Regions from separate parts of the Homo sapiens genome. Here all the other regions are linked to region 3. Evidence: fine-mapped expression QTL. A gene starts in region 3. Each other region holds a variant in brackets. All regions are shown on one strand. Distances are from middle to middle.

Region 1 (5,000 bases), 53 kb before region 3:
CCAAGATTGTGCCATTGCACTCCAGCTTGGGCGAAAGAGAGAGAGGGAACTGTTACATATTATGAATTATGAATTTTATTTTAATATTTATTTTTTATTTTATTTTGCATTTTGAGACAGGGTCTTGCTCTGTTGCCTTAGGCTGCTGTGCAGTGCCCCAATCTCGGCTCACTGCAACCTCTGCCTCCCAGGCTCAGGCGATCCTCCCACTTCAACCTCCCAAGTAGCTGGAACTATAGGTACGTGCCATCACACCCAGCTAATTTTTGTATTTTTTGTAGAGACAGAGTTTTGCCATGTTGCCCAGGCTGAACTCCTGGGCTCAAGTGATCTGCCCACCTCGGCCTCCCCAAAGTGCTGGGATTACAGGTGTGAGCCACTGTATCCAGCTGAATTACAGATTTCAGTCACATTTTGTCAGTACTGACTCTTGCTGCTTGTGTTCTGTTGATATGGGTCTCCAATTATATCCTGTCAGCAGATGCTTTTTCATTTAATGATTGGTAATGTAGAAGGGGGTAAAATACTATTAATTTTATTTTTGTGCCAGGTGCAGTGGCTCACTCCTGTAATCCTAACACTTTGGGAGGCTGAGGCAGGTGGGTCACTTGAACTCAGGAGTTTAAGACCAGCCTGGGCAACATGACAACATGACAAAACCCTGTCTCTATAAAAAATACAAAAATTAGCTTGGCGTTGTGGCATGCGCCTGTAGTCCCAGCTACTTGGGATGCTGAATCAGGAGGATTGCTTGAGCCAGGGAGGTTGAGGCTGCAGTGAGCCATGTTTGCACCACTGCAGTCCAGCCTGGATTACAAAGCAAGACTCTGTCTGAAGATAATAATAATAATTTTTATTTTTAATGTATATCTAGCTTTGTTTCAAAAAAAAAAAAAAGGTTGAAGACAGTGGTTAATCACATTGTTGCTCTCAGATAGTTTGGTCAGGTTCCTCAGTGCAGTCAGAAAGGGCCTTAATGACTAAGGCTAGGCAGCCTTCAGGAATGGCCAGTAGAATGTATAACAGGCCAAGAAAAATAGATTTTCACTTCTGTCCACCAGAACTGTTTTCTTTTTCCTTAAAAGGAATTGATCACTTCTGCTGGCAATAATATGTTTATTGAAGAGCAAAATTGTAGAGGCAGATCACAAATAAGAACATGTTTCAGAGTACAATATGTGAGGCCAAGTGCGGTGGCTCATGCCTGTAATCCCAGCACTTTAGCACGTTGGGAGGCCGAGGCGCGCGGATCACTTGAGGTCAGAAACTTGAGACCAGCCTGGCCAACATGGCGAAACCCTGTCTCTACTAAAAAAATACAAAAATTAGGCTGGGCGTGGTGGGTCACATCTGTAATTCCAGCACTTTGGGAGGCCGAGGTGGGCGGATCATGAGGTGAGGAGTTCGAGACCAGCATGACCAATGTGGTGAAACCCTGTCTCTACTAAAAATACAAAAAAAAAAAAATTAGCTGGGCGTGGTGGCGCTTGCCTGTAGTCTCAGCTACTCAGGAGGCTGAGGCAGGAGAATCACTTGAACCCAGGAGGCTGAGGTTGCAGTGAGCCAAGATCGCGCCACTGCACTCCAGCCTGGTGACAGAGCGAGACTTTGCCTAAAAAAAAAAAAAAAAAGAAAAGAAATTAGCTGGGTGTGGTGGTGTGCACCTGTAGTCCCAGCTATTGGGACGCTGAGGCAGGAGAATCGCTTGAACCCGGGAGGCAGAGGTTGCAGTGAACCAAGATCACGCCACTGCACTCCAGCCTAGGTGACAGAGTGAGACTCCATCTCAAAAAAAAAAAAAGAGTACAGCACGTGAACTTGGACCTATATGGGGAGCACTAAGCCTTCAGTTGCAAAGTCATAGAAGATTTCTTACTTGATAGATAGAAATGCATGTCTATTAAAGTCTTGTTGGTGAAATTAGTATAATAACATCTGACTGAGGATAGGTATGCTATTTTACTGATGATCTTTTATATTTATAATGATAGTTATTTACATATAAAACTAAAGCAAATAAGTGAAAAAAGTTTATATTTTCTTTTGATCTTATAGGATGTAGATGATTTCTTTGAGCACGAACGAACATTTCTTTTGGA[G/A]TATCATAACCGAGTTAAGGATGCATCTGCTAAATCTGATAGAATGACAAGATCCCACAAAAGTAAGATTTTTCTGTGGCTAAAGCTTATATCTTTTAATGGAATAATTATAAAGTTCATATTATAGTTTGAAAAAGTCTTAATATAGAGCAGTAGTTCTCAAACTGGTCTGTTGGAGCCTAGGCTCCATGGCCCTTTTATAGTGAGCCTGTGAGGTCAAAACTATTTTCAGCTGGGCACAGTGGCTCACGCCTGTGATCACGACACTTTTGGAGGCTGAAGCGGGAATATCACTTGAGCCCAGGAATTCAAGACCAGCCTGAGCAACAGAGTAAGATCCTGTTTGTATTGCACCAGCCTGATATAAAAAATAAAATTAGCCAGACGTGGTGCCGCATGGCTGTGGTCCCAGCTACTAGGAAAGCTAAGGTGGGAGGATGCCTTGGGCCTGGGAGGTTGAGGCTGCAGTGAGCTGTGATGGATCGTACCACCATACTTCAGTCTGGGTGACAGAGTGAGACTGTCTAGACAGCAACAAAACAACAACTATTTTTATAATGATACTGTGATAGTTTTTGCCTTTTTCACCATGTTGACATTTACACCGATGATGGATAAAGTTGCTGCTGCGTAATTACATACAAATCAAGTCAGTGGCAACAAACTGGACGAGTAGTCTCTATATTCTTTCCGGCCATGCACTTGCTCTTTTTTTTTTCTTTGAGACAGAGTCTCTATCGCCCAGGCTGGAGTGCAGCGGTGCAATCTCAGCTCACTGCAACAACCTCAGCCGCCCAAGTTCAAGCAGTTCTCCTGCCTCAGCCTCCCAAGTAGCTGGGATTACAGGCACCTGCCACCGCGCCTGGCTAATTTTTGTATTTTTAGTAGAGATGGGGTTTCACAGTCTTGGCCAGGATGGTCTTGAACTCCTGACCTCATGATCCACCCGCCTTGGCCTTCCAAAGTGCAGGGATTACAGGCGTGAGCCACCGCACCTGGCCACTTGCAATTTTTAAGACATGTGACTTTCACTTAAGAATGCCCTTGATGAAACAGTAAAAATTGATTGTAATCTCTACCCTTGGGTATACATTTTTAAATATTCTGAGTGATGAAATAGGAGGTATGCATAAAGCACTTTGGCTACATACTCAAGTATGATGGTTCTCTAGAAAAGCATTTTAGTGATAGAGTTGTGATTGAACTAGCTAATTTTTTCGTAGAACACTACTTTTACTTTAGAGAATGACTGATAAACTGTTTATGAATATTTGGCAAATGTTTTCTCAAAAATCAACTAATTATTTAAATTAGAGGAACCTGGCCAAAAATCCATCAGTTATTTCAAGGAAAACAAAGGTAGTATTTGTTGCCAATGATAAGTCAAGCTTCAAGCAATAATTCGAATTTTGGAAAACTTTATCTCTCTGACCATGAGCTTACTTCCCAATAGATACTGGACTGGTAGTCTGTATGTTCTTTCCTGCCATGCACTTGCAATTTTTTTTTTTGAGGCGGAGTCTCTGTTGCCCAGGCTGGAGTGCAATGGTACGATCTCGTCTCACTGCAGCCTCTGCCACTGCCATTGCCAGGTTCAAGCAATTCTCCTGCCTCAGCCTCCCAAGTAGCTGGGATTACAGGCGCCTGCCACCGTGCCCGGCTAGATAGACCAATAAAGACCCATATAGAGATTGATGATGATACTAGTGAATGTGATTTTTTAAAAAATTGTACATTGAATTGTGTCACCACTTAGAACATCTGCATAATTCATTGGACCAATGTTTTCTAAACGGCCAAGTGCATAATGCTACAAAATCATATATGTAAAAGAACCACTCAAAGTGCAAAATAGACCAGTGAGGGTTTTTTTTTTAACAGCTTTGTTGAGTGTAATTGATATCAGTAAGCTGCAGTAATCAAAGTGTACAATTTGGTAAGTTTTGGCATGTGTGAAATCCTTACCACAATCAAAATAATGAACACACACATCACCCCCAAAGTTTTCTTGTGGCCCTTTGAAATCTCTCCCTCCTGCCCTATCCCCAGGCAGCCACTGATCTGCTTTCTGTCACTATAGATTAGTTTGTATTTTTTAGTATTTTATATAAATTGAATCATACAGTATGTATTCTTTATTGTCTGGCTTTGAAACTCAAAAAACTATTTTGAGATTCATCCAAGTTGTTGTGTATATCGATAGTTCATTTCTTTTTGTTGCTAAGTAGTGTTCCATTGAATGGATATACAACAATTATTTATTTCTAGCTTTGGCTATTACAGATACAATTTATGTGAGCCATTTCTATATAACTTTTTGTACGGACATGCTTTCTTTCTCTTGGGTAATACCTAGAAGTAGAATGCCTGAGTCATGTGGTAAATGAATATTTAACTTTTTAAGAAACTACCAATTTTTTTTTCCACAATGGTTGTACCATTTTGCATTCCCACGAGCAGGGCATGAGAGTTCCAGTTGCTCCACATCTTTGCCAACAAGGATAGTCAGTCTTTTTTTTTTCCCCAGTGGAATTTGAAGTCTTTTTAACTTTATTCAAGTAGGTCAGTGGTGGTAACTCAGTGTGGTTTAGATTTGTATTGTCCTAATGACTGTTGAGGTTCAACATCTTTTCTTGTGTCCTTCTTCCTTCAGCTTTATTCTTTTTTTTTTTTTTTGAGACGAAGTCTTGCTCTGTCGCCCAGGCTGCTGGAGTGCAGTGGCGGAATCTTGGCTCACTGCAAGCTCCACCTCCTGGGTTTACGCCATTCTCCTGCCTCAGCCTCCCGAGAACCTGGGACTACAGGTGCCCGCCACCACGCCCGGCTAATTTTTTGTATTTTTAGTAGTGACAGGGTTTCACTGTGTTAGCCAGGATGGTTTCAATCTCCTCACCTCGTAAT
Region 2 (5,000 bases), 86 kb before region 3:
TCTCTACTAAAAATACAAAAATTAGCTGGGCATGGTGGCGCATGCCTGTAATTCCAGTTACTTCAGAGGCTGAGGCAGGAGAATCACTGGATTCATTCACTGGAACCTGGGAGGTGGAGGTTGCAGTGAGCTGAGATTGCACCATTGCACTCCAGCCTGGGCAACAAGAGCAAAACTCCATCTCAAAAAAAGAAAAAAAAGAAAAAACAATTTTTTTTTTTTTTGAAACGGAGTCTCGCTCTTTCGCCCAGGCCGAAGGCCCGACTGCAGTGGTGCTATCTTGGCTCACTGCAAGCTCCGCCTCCCGGATTCACGCCATTGTCCTGCCTCAGCCTCCTGAGTAGCTGGGACTACAGGCGCCCGCCACCGCACCTGGCTAATTTTTTTGTATTTTTAGTAGAGACGGGGTTTCACCGTGTTAGCCAGGATGGTCTCGATCTCCTGACCTCGTGATCCGCCCGCCTCTGCCTCCCAAAGTGCTGGGATTACAGGCGTGAGCCACCGCGCCTGGCCAACAATTTTTTTTTAAACTTAGGCAAGCTTGGTGGTATATACCTGTAGTCCTAGCTATTTGAGAGGCTGAGAGCTTGAGAACAATGAGCTATGGCTTGAGAGAGCCAGGGTGACAGAGTGAGGTCCTGTCTCTAAAAAAATTTTTAAAATTGTATTTCGGGTTTTAAAATAGCGGAAACTAGCAGAGTTACTTAATGAAGTATGAGGAGTTGATTATAGCACAATTAAACTAATTATTCTAAATATAAAGCATATGACCTTTAGATAACTTTATGTCCTATTTTTGGTGTCTACTAGCACAAGCAAACAGGATTTGCTTTCTTGGAGGATCTTAATAATGTTCAGTAAAAATACTAATTTTTGAGTATGTTGATGTTGTGAAAAGTATTTTTTGGTGAATATTTGTGTTCATGGCTTTATGCCTTCAGAAAGATTTGCTCATGAAACTGGAAGCCCTTAAGTAATTTGTCCAGAAACTTTCTCTTTTTTTTTTTTTGAAATGGAGTCTCGCTCTGTTGCCCAGGCTGGAGTGCAGTGGCGTGATCTCAGCTCGCTGCAAGCTCTGCCTCCTGGGTTCATGCTATGCCATTCTCCTGCCTTAGCCTCCTGAGTAGCTGGGACTACAGGAGTGCGCGACCGTGCCCGGCTAATTTTTTGCATTTTTTTTTTTTTTTAGTAGAGGCGGGGTTTCACCTTGTTAGCCAGGATGGTCTAGATCTCCTGACGTTGTGATCTGCCTGCCTCGGCCTCCCAAAGTGCTGGAATTACAGGCGTGAGCCACCGTGCCTGGCCCCAGAGACTTTTTCATGTATTACAAAATTAAAGGGAGAGGAAGACAAAAGAGCACTCCTGACTGTGATGTTCTTATAGAATCCTGTAGATGAAAATTTTAATATGGAAATGGAAAAAAACCTGAATTAGAATGCTTTTAGAACATCAGGATGGATATATACACTTACCCAGTTCTTCCTTATTTTTGTCCCGTGGAACTGGGTGAATCATAATAATTATAAAATTATAGGTGGGCACAGCATAATCATTGTTTCATTATATTTATATTTCATTATATTTCATCATCCCTCTAAAGCCTTTAGTATCCCCCTTTTTCTAATGAGAAATCCGAACTTCAGAGAAACTAAGTTAGTAGTCTGAGGTCACACAGCAACAAATGGGAGAGCTGGACTTTAAAACACATTTCTGATATCAGAGCCACTGCACAGGTTTCTCAAAGTGGCCTTGAAATACTTGCATTAGAATTACCTGGTGCATTTGAAAATCAAAATGAAAGTTTCTGGGTGTCACCTCCTCACTAAATCAGAATCTCTTAGGGTAGGGAATACACAGTATTGAAAACTGTTGGTCACACTTTGATCTCTTCAGCCCCACCTCTACATATGGGCAGATAACTGCATTTTTTTTTTAAATTTTTTTTGAGACAGGGTCTCGCTCTGTTGCCCACGCTGGGGTGCAGTGGCAATCTTGGCTCACTGCAACCTCCACCTCCCGGGTTAAGGTGATTCTCCTGTCTCAGCCTCCTGAGTAGCTGG[G/A]ATTATAGGTGCCCGCCACCAGGCCTGGCTAATTTTTTTGTATTTTTAGTAGAGACAGGGTTACACCATGTTGGCCAGGCTGGTCTCAAACTCCTGACCACAGGGGATCTGCCCGCCTCGGCCTCCCAAAGTGCTGGGATTACAGGTGTGAGCCACCGCGCCCGGCCGATAACTGCTTTTTTGACCAGCACCCAAGGAGTTTCTGTTTGTGCACTGAAATTTGATTACTGCTGCAGAAAGTTATCCTGCTATTTCCTCATTTTAGGAATAGAAATATCTGGCCTGTTTAAATTTCCTTACATTGTGTTTGTCCTGATAGAAATAGATTACCATAATTAGAACTTTTAGGCATTGCATTTTTAGTTTAGATCATCTTGTTGAGCCTTTTAAGAAAGGGAGTCTTGGCTGGTCACAGTGGCTCACTCCTATAATCCCAACACTTTGGGAGGCAGAGGTGGGTGGATCACGAGGTCGGGAGTTCGAGACCAGCCTGACCAACATAGTGAAACCCTGTCCCTGCTAAAAATACAGAAAATTAGCTGGGCATGGTGGCGGGCACCTGTAATCCCACCTACTCGGGAGGCTGAGGCGGGAGAATCACTGGAACCCAGGAGGCGGAGGTTGCAGTGAGCTGAGAGCGTGCCATTGCACTCCAGCCTGGGCAACAGTGCGAGACTCTGTCTCGAAAAGAAAGGGGAATTTTGACAGAAAAAGCATGAAGTACATATTGATACAAGTTGCAAAGGGGACAGCACATTCAAAAATAATAACTAGCATTTCATGTAAAGCAGCAAGTAAGCAAAAAAAATTTTTTTTTTTTTCCTAGACGGAGTCTTGCTCTGTCGCTAGGCTGGAGTGCAGTGGTGCGACCTTGACTCACTGCAACCTCTGGCTCCCAAGTTCAAGCTATTCTCCTGCCTCAGCCTCCTGAGTAGCTGGGACTACAGGTGCACGCCACCACGCCCAGCTAATTTTTGTATTTTTAGTAGAGACGAGGTTTCACCATGTTGGCCAGGATGGTCTTGATCTCTTGACTTCATGATCCACCCTCCTCAGCCTCCCAAAGTGCTGGGATTACAGGTGTGAGCCACAGCGTCCAGCTACAAGTAAGCAAAATTAAAGTCAGTGTTTTAAAATAAATCTTTAAGCAGCTGTACATTTTCATCATGATATTTCGATTAGAACAGAATCTTAGTGCCCTAAGAAAACATTGTTTTGGCCAGGCGCAGTGTCTCATGCATGTAATCCCAGCACTTTGCGAGGCCGAGATGGGCAGATCACCTGAGGTCAGGAGTTAAAGACCTGCCTGGCCCACATGGTGAAACCCCATCTCTACTAAAAATACAAAAATTAGCCGGGCGTGATGGCTGGTGCCTGTAATCCCAGCTACTTGGGAGGCTGAGGCAGGAAAATCACTTGAACCCAGGAGGCAGAGGTTGCAGTGAGCCGAGACTGTGCCATTGCACTCCAGCCTGGGCGACAAGAGCGAAACTGTCTCAAAAAAAAAGGAAAATATTGTTTTGTGAGAAATTTAAAAAGCAGGCTTCAAGAATACATAGTGTTGAAAAATATTGGCCACATTTTCATCTCTTTAGCCCTACCTCTATATAATAGGTTTTTCCTCCCCCAAATAAAGGACAGTAACATATTATTTAGTACACAAATGAGCCCTTTGAATTGGACACATTTTTTTTCTGATGTGCTTGTTAAATAAGAACAGTGCATGCCAGAGTGATGGCATGATTCTCTTTGCACTTGATTTCAGTTCTAAATAATATGTTTATTGTTTTCAAGAATTACTTTAGGTGGAGTAACTACTTGTTCTCCTGTACTCGTAGCCTTGCTCCTACCTTTGTATTCCTTATCTTCATTAATAGCATCACTTTCCAGTTGTGCCGGCAAGAAACCTCTGAGTCATATCCTTCATCTTTATATCAGAACAGTCATTGAGGCCAGTTAATTTCACCTTGGAAATGTTGTTTATCCCATCTTTCATGTGCTTGGTTCCATTTAAGCTCCTTGCTTCTTCCTGCTTGGATAGTAGCAGTACCTCTCCTTAGTCTCTGTCTTTAGTCTTTCTACTTTCCAATTCAGTCGTCAAATTACTTATATTACTAAAATGATTAAACCATATAGCACGTTAGTGAAAAGGACTTCCTTGGACCCCTTTTTTTGGGGGGTAAGGTCCAAACTCCTTAGGCTAACATTCAACTCTGTTCATAACCTTTTCTGACTGGCTTCATTTCTCAATATCCCCTCCCCCATATTCTAGTCTACTCCCCATTGCCCAAGTACGTCTACACTTGACTGTCTGTTTTATGCATGCATTTCAGTGTTTTTTTTCCCCCTCACCTTTTCTTTCGCTTCAAATTCAACTTGAATTTGGCCCAGATGCTTGCATTTTGTTTTGCACCTGCACACTTTTTAGCTTAAACACATGCCACATTTATTGATAGTTACTTCACATAAAAATGTGACATATATTATGTTGGCTGAGGATTAAAAAGATCAATAAGACAAAGTTCCTGCCCTGAGACCATCACAGTGTAGTGAAGGAGATAGAGTTATAATCCCTTGCAATGAAGTGTATGGGAGTACAAAGTAAAAGTGTTCAACTTTAGGGGAAGGGGTAGTAGTAAAGACATAATGATAGTTACACACTTACATGCATTCACTGCATGTCAGGGACTTTCCATATAAACTCAATTCTCAAATCCCTATGAAATACACCTACTGTTATTCCTATTTGGGAAAGGAAAACTGAGTTGCAGAGACATTAAATAACTTGCCCAAGGTCATACAGCCGGTAGGAGCTGTGGTCAAATAGGCAATCTAGCTCTAGGGCCTGGCTCTTAACCACTGTGCTATTGGTCTGCTTTCCAACAGGGAGGATGGCATGTGTTGGTAATTTGGTTCCTCCTAGAGCACTTGTTCTTACTG
Region 3 (5,398 bases):
CAAGCAATCTTCCCACTTTGGACCCCCACAGTGCTGGGATTACAGGGGTAAGCCACCACACCCAACCTCAATCTTCTTGTGATCTGTTATGTTGACAACCAAGACAGCTACTTAGTGGTTGGTTGATGGGTGGACAGTGTATACAGCATGGACACACTGGACAGAGGCATGACTCAATGTTCCAGGTAGGACGGCAACAGATTTCATCACGCTACTCAGAACAGCACAACATTTAAGACATAAATTGTTTCTGGAGTTTTTCATTTAGTATTTTCAGATTTCAGGTGACTGCTGTAACTTGAAGCAAGAAAAGTGAAACTACAGAAAAGGGAGGACCACTGGACGGCTGCTTTCATTCTACGCCCACTTTTTAGAGTGCATTCCTACAATAAGCACCCTAATAATGTAAACCAGGGGCCAAGGGATGCACCTTCCACTCTACTTCCTTCCCCAGAAAAGACCACCTTGGTAAATACAGAATGGCAAACGGTTAAGTGAAACACTGTATAGCTTCTGGCCCTATACTTAGTATTTCTTAACATTTACACAGCATTTTCACATTTCCAAAGCAGAGTACCAACATTTATTAATCCTCACAACACCCCTGTGAGGTAGGTCAGTATGTCCTTTAGAGTCGAGAACTGAGGCAGAGGTCAAGCAAACCTGCCCTGGGCCACAGAGCAGCAGATGAAGGGCCTAGACCTGGATCCAGAAGCTAGGGCTCTCGGTCCAGCATTCATCCACTGGTGGACATCACATGGGCTTATTTTTACCAGCGAAGGTTACGTGAAGGACAAAACGCACTCAGCCAGCAACGGAAACTCAACAGTTCAAACAGCACTGGGGAACATGTCAGTTAAAGAGACGAAACGCTGACCAGCTCATGAATGAGGCAAGACAACATGCGGCTGAGGAAGTGTGGAATCATCACGACTGGGGATTAGACCAAGAACGGGCGCTCAGGAGGGTTCAGGAAAATGTAAACAAACTAGGAACCCATCCAAGGGGTGACAGGCCCAAATGCCTACGGTCTCCAAATGGTAGAAAAATTAGAAAAAGATAGTGGAAAAATCCAACCACGCAACCTTAACTTTAAACTAGGAATGACAATAATGTGTCTAATGTTCATTCACACTAGAAAGGCCGATAATGTTTGTAATATAACTACTGGCGATAGTATCCTATTTGTATGCCAACTTTCATCTCAAGTATTCTGCTTTTCTTTCCCCACAGACAAACAAGTGTTGTTCTTTACAGCAGACCTCTTTCCCTCTACATACCAATCTATCCACTCGCATAACTACTAAGTGGCTCAATGGCCTATGTCTCATGCTTAATTGGCTGAGCTAGGCGCGGAATCCGGGAAACCACAACAGACTGTACTCTGCTCCTGTATTTCAGGAATAACTGTCACTAACCTGCTTCTGTCCGATTCCACCTTCTATGAAGTACACACAGAGGAGCAGTTCATTCTTTTGTAAAGGGATTGGTGGACTTTGTTCGAGATGCCATTTCAAAAGAAATGAGAAAAAAGAAAAACTAAGACCTGCACTGTAAAGCATAATACAGGAGTAGATTTATTACAGCTACTCCACATTTTAGAGAGTGCCACAGTGTCTCGGTAGGAGGCAGGAACCCGAGTTCCTGGTTCAGAAACAGGGTTAGAAACAGTCTCCCGATGGAGCTCAAGTGGCTGTCATCTGCCTGTTCTCCTCAGGTATCGAGTGGGATCAGTTGAGGGCTGAGCAAAAGTGGGGACTGGGAAGATGACGAGAAAAGATAACTTTTCGTAGATTGTTGAGGCCGCAGTCAGACTGAGGAGTGAACAGTGTGAAGGAGAGGTTGAGAGCCTCATGGTGTGGAAGGCATAAGGGTTAGAGGCGAGGTTGGAGGGATGTGGGTGCTGGTGTCTGAGGACTTATTGGATTTCGGGCTGTGTGTCCCTCAGCGTCTAGATTCCTGCTTCGTAGGTGATGAGACGCTGCATGTAGCATGTTCACCTCAGAGACTGTCACTTATGAGGGTGCCCATCATTATTATTTTTGGTGACAAGGTAGCTGCTATTTTCCTGTAAGCAGAAGCTGCGGAAGAAAATGGTGGGATTGGCCGGGAGCGGTGGCTCACGCCTGTAATCCCAGCATTTTGGAAGGTCGAGGTGGGCGGATCACCTGAGGTCCGGAGTTCGAGACCAGCCTCAACATGGAGAAACCCCCGTCTCTACTAAAAATACAAAATTAGCCGGGCGTGGTGGTGTATGCCTGTAATCCCAGCTACTCGGGAGGCTGCGGTAGGAGAATTGCTTGAACCTGGGAGGCGGAGGTTGCGGTGAGCCGAGATCGCGCCATTGCACTCCAGCCTGGGCAACAAGAGCGAAACTCCGTCTCCAAAAAACAAAACAAAACAAAAATGGTGGGATTAAGACCCGCCCCCGTCCCGTCCCCGCCCCTTTTCGCTCCTGCTCCGCCCCTTCCCCGCCTTCTACCTGCCTCCCTCGGTGCTGTCGGTCTGCGCGGGCGCGCAAGGGGGACTGGGACGTTCAGGCGGAAGTGGCGTCAGGGGCGCTTTAGGGACTGGACTTGCAGTGTAAACAGAGACGCTGCAAATTGCTTGTGGACGGTGTAGGCCGCTGCAGGCCACCATGAACCGGCTTCCGGATGACTACGACCCCTACGCGGTTGAAGAGCCTAGCGACGAGGAGCCGGCTTTGAGCAGGTGGGCTCCCGCCCCACCCTGGCCCCCGAGGATTTGGGTCGAGGCCTGGCTTTGGTCGCCTCCATTCGTTGCGCCTGCCGAGCCTACGCAGACCCTAGCGGCTCGGGAGCCTGTCGTGCCTGTTACTTGTGCGAAGCCAAAGGGCTTTCCTGATGGGGTCGCGCAGTCCCGGGGGGAGGCGGTGCCGATGTCGCCTGTAGGAAGAGGGATATTCCGGAATCACGGGGGACCGCGTGTAAATCTTCAAAAGCAATGAGATCGAAACCTGTCTCTACACCTTAGTAGCAGAGTGACGGAAGGCAAGTCAGTTATCCTCGATTACTCACCTGTAAAATTGAACTATAATAACATAATTGTATAACCTATATAACATAGTATAACACACTATGTTTGTTGTGAGGCTCACAGGACTTAATGTGAAGTGTCCATCTTGAAGACTAAACTGCCATAAACAGAAATAAGGGAATATTGAACAGCCTTTTTTATTTTTATTTTTTGACAGGGACTGTTGTATGCTCGCTCTGAGCTACAGAGATAAATCATAAGGTCCTTGTCTTCCAGAGGCTTATAGTATAATAAGGGTAATAAGATAAAGTATATATTTCTTGGCAGAGCATTGTAGAGAATATTGACCTGAGATAGGCACAGAAGAAGGTTCGTGGGATTTCCAGAAGGGTGGGCTTTATTCTACCAGGGAAACTTGAAGCTGTTTTGCCGAGATATTTCCACACAAATTTAGTTATTTCTTAAGCTGTCAGCAGATCCTATTCTTAAACTTTAAAACATTCATTCTGCCTAAAGAAGCTTTCTGTAAAGCCATGCTTTCATTAACAACTTTGGCTGGGTGTGGTGGCCCATGCCTGTAATCCCAGGACTTTGGGAGTCTGAGGCGAGAGAATCTCTTAAGCCTGGTAGTAAAGGAACAGCCTGGGCAACATAGTGAGACCTCATTTCTTAAAAAAAAAAAAAATCAAAAGAACAATGTTTCCTCATATTGTCATGGGGAGACATTGGATGCATGGGAAATCAGACTGCTGTTAAGATTTCTTTTGTTGGGAGTGAGGATAGATACCAGGATTCCCTGTGAAAAAGAGTTTCAGTTAATGGGTCCTGTCTGTGAAAGGAGGTATGTATATATGTATGTCTCAATTATTTATTTATTTATTTATTTATTTTGAGACAGAGTCTCACTCTGTCAGCCAGGCTGGAGTGCACTGGTGCAATCTTGGCTCACTGTAGCCTCCACCTCCTGGGTTCCAGCAATTCTCCTGCCTCAGCCTCCTGGGTAGCTGGGATTACAGGCATGCGCTACCACACCTGGCTTATTTTTTGTATTTTTCGTAGAGATGGGTTTTCACCACGTTGGCCAGGCTGGTCTTGAACTCCTGACCTTAGGCAATCTGCCTGCGTCGGGCTCCCAAAGTGCTAGGATTACAGGCCTGAGCCACGGAGCCAGGACTGTTGTATCATTTTTTTAAGGAAGCTTTATAATTCTGTGACAGTTGCCACTGGTAAGGTAACTGTAAAGATAAATATTATAAAAACAAAACAATGTTATCAGACAGTATTGCCTGTTGTAGGCTCTGAGCCAAATGGTTATTATTTTAAAAAGGGAGATTAGTGTTAGAGAGGTGTCTGTCAGTATTTAATTTTACACTGTTTATAAACTAATACATTGTAGCCTGTTAACTGTTTCACGGTAGCTGACCGAAGACATGAGACTCCTGGGTCAAAGATAAGACTACACATAGCACAGCAAGCAGCATGAGCATCATGTTTGTGTGGCTTGCTCTTGCTTGTCAACCCTACAGGTATTACGCTGAGGGTCCTAGAAGAATGCTGCACATTCAGTGGGTTGGCATCGTGGCTAAAGACTACTTGAGCTTGGAGAATCCACCTCTTTCATAGAAGACAGTAAATACATCTGCTCTTTGTCCTGGAAGGAGACATTATCTCATTCCTCAAGGTTGTTGTTCGCTGCAAACACAATCCTGAGAAATGGCTGGAGTGAACAGTGGTCAGAACCTTGCATTCTTGGCATACTTAACTTGCATATCTAGGGTCCATGATGTATGACTGCCTTTCTCAGCAGTGCTGAAAACTGAGACTTTGGTTGAGATAATGACAAGGATTGAAGAAAATTTGTAGAAAAAATAGCTCTCACTTTGTGATTCAGTTTTTAAAAATTAAACATTTTATTTTGAAGTTTTCGTAGATTCACATTCAGTTATAAGAAATAATACAGGTCTGGTGCAGTGGCTCACATCTGTAATCCCAGCACTTTGGAAGGCCAAGGCAGGAGAATCACTTGAGCTCAAGAGTTCAAGACCAGCCTGAGCAACATGATGAAATCATGTCTTTACTGAAAATACAAAAAATTAGCTGGTATGGTGGTGCATATCTGTGGTCCCAGCTACTCAGGAGGGTGAGGCGGTTGGTTGGCTTGAGCCTGGGAGGCGGAAGTTTCAGTGAGCCAAGATGGCACCATTGCACTCCAGCCTGGGCAACACAGGGAGACCCCCATCTCAAAAAATAAAAAATAATAAAAAAAAAAGAAATAATACAGAGAGATCCTGTGTACTCTTTCCCCAGTTTCCTCCAGTGTTAACATACTACAAAACTATAGTGCAGTATCACAACCAGGATATCTATCTATCTATATATCTATCTATGTATTTTTTGAGAC

Evidence for each region. PIP is the estimated chance that this variant, and not a neighbour inherited with it, causes the effect.
Region 1: its variant is the best candidate, but not a certain one, in a credible set for the expression of EAPP in whole blood (INTERVAL, PIP 0.86).
Region 2: its variant is the best candidate, but not a certain one, in a credible set for the expression of EAPP in whole blood (TOPMed, PIP 0.60).

What each region holds. Positions count from the first base shown.
Region 1 is chr14:34,590,206-34,595,205 of GRCh38, reverse strand. SNX6 (sorting nexin 6) reads left to right here. Exons shown (of 14, transcript NM_152233.4): 8 at 2,056-2,161. Among named protein-coding and RNA genes, the nearest start is that of SNX6, 37 kb to the left of the region's middle. The variant G/A (reference allele first, on the strand shown) is at 2,100.
Region 2 is chr14:34,622,678-34,627,677 of GRCh38, reverse strand. All of the region lies in intron 2 of SNX6 (sorting nexin 6), which reads left to right. Among named protein-coding and RNA genes, the nearest start is that of SNX6, 5.0 kb to the left of the region's middle. RefSeq lists a silencer at 3,821-4,115. The variant G/A (reference allele first, on the strand shown) is at 2,061.
Region 3 is chr14:34,536,869-34,542,266 of GRCh38, reverse strand. It overlaps EAPP (E2F associated phosphoprotein), which reads left to right and starts at 2,566. Exons shown (of 6, transcript NM_018453.4): 1 at 2,566-2,712. The coding sequence starts at 2,639. It overlaps LOC105370447 (a long non-coding RNA gene), which reads right to left and starts at 2,518. Exons shown (of 2, transcript XR_943739.1): 1 at 2,483-2,518; 2 at 561-2,081. It overlaps LOC112268123 (a long non-coding RNA gene), which reads left to right. Exons shown (of 2, transcript XR_002957583.1): 2 at 278-1,033. RefSeq lists silencers at 2,389-2,488, 4,430-4,724 and enhancers at 2,629-2,788, 2,439-3,363.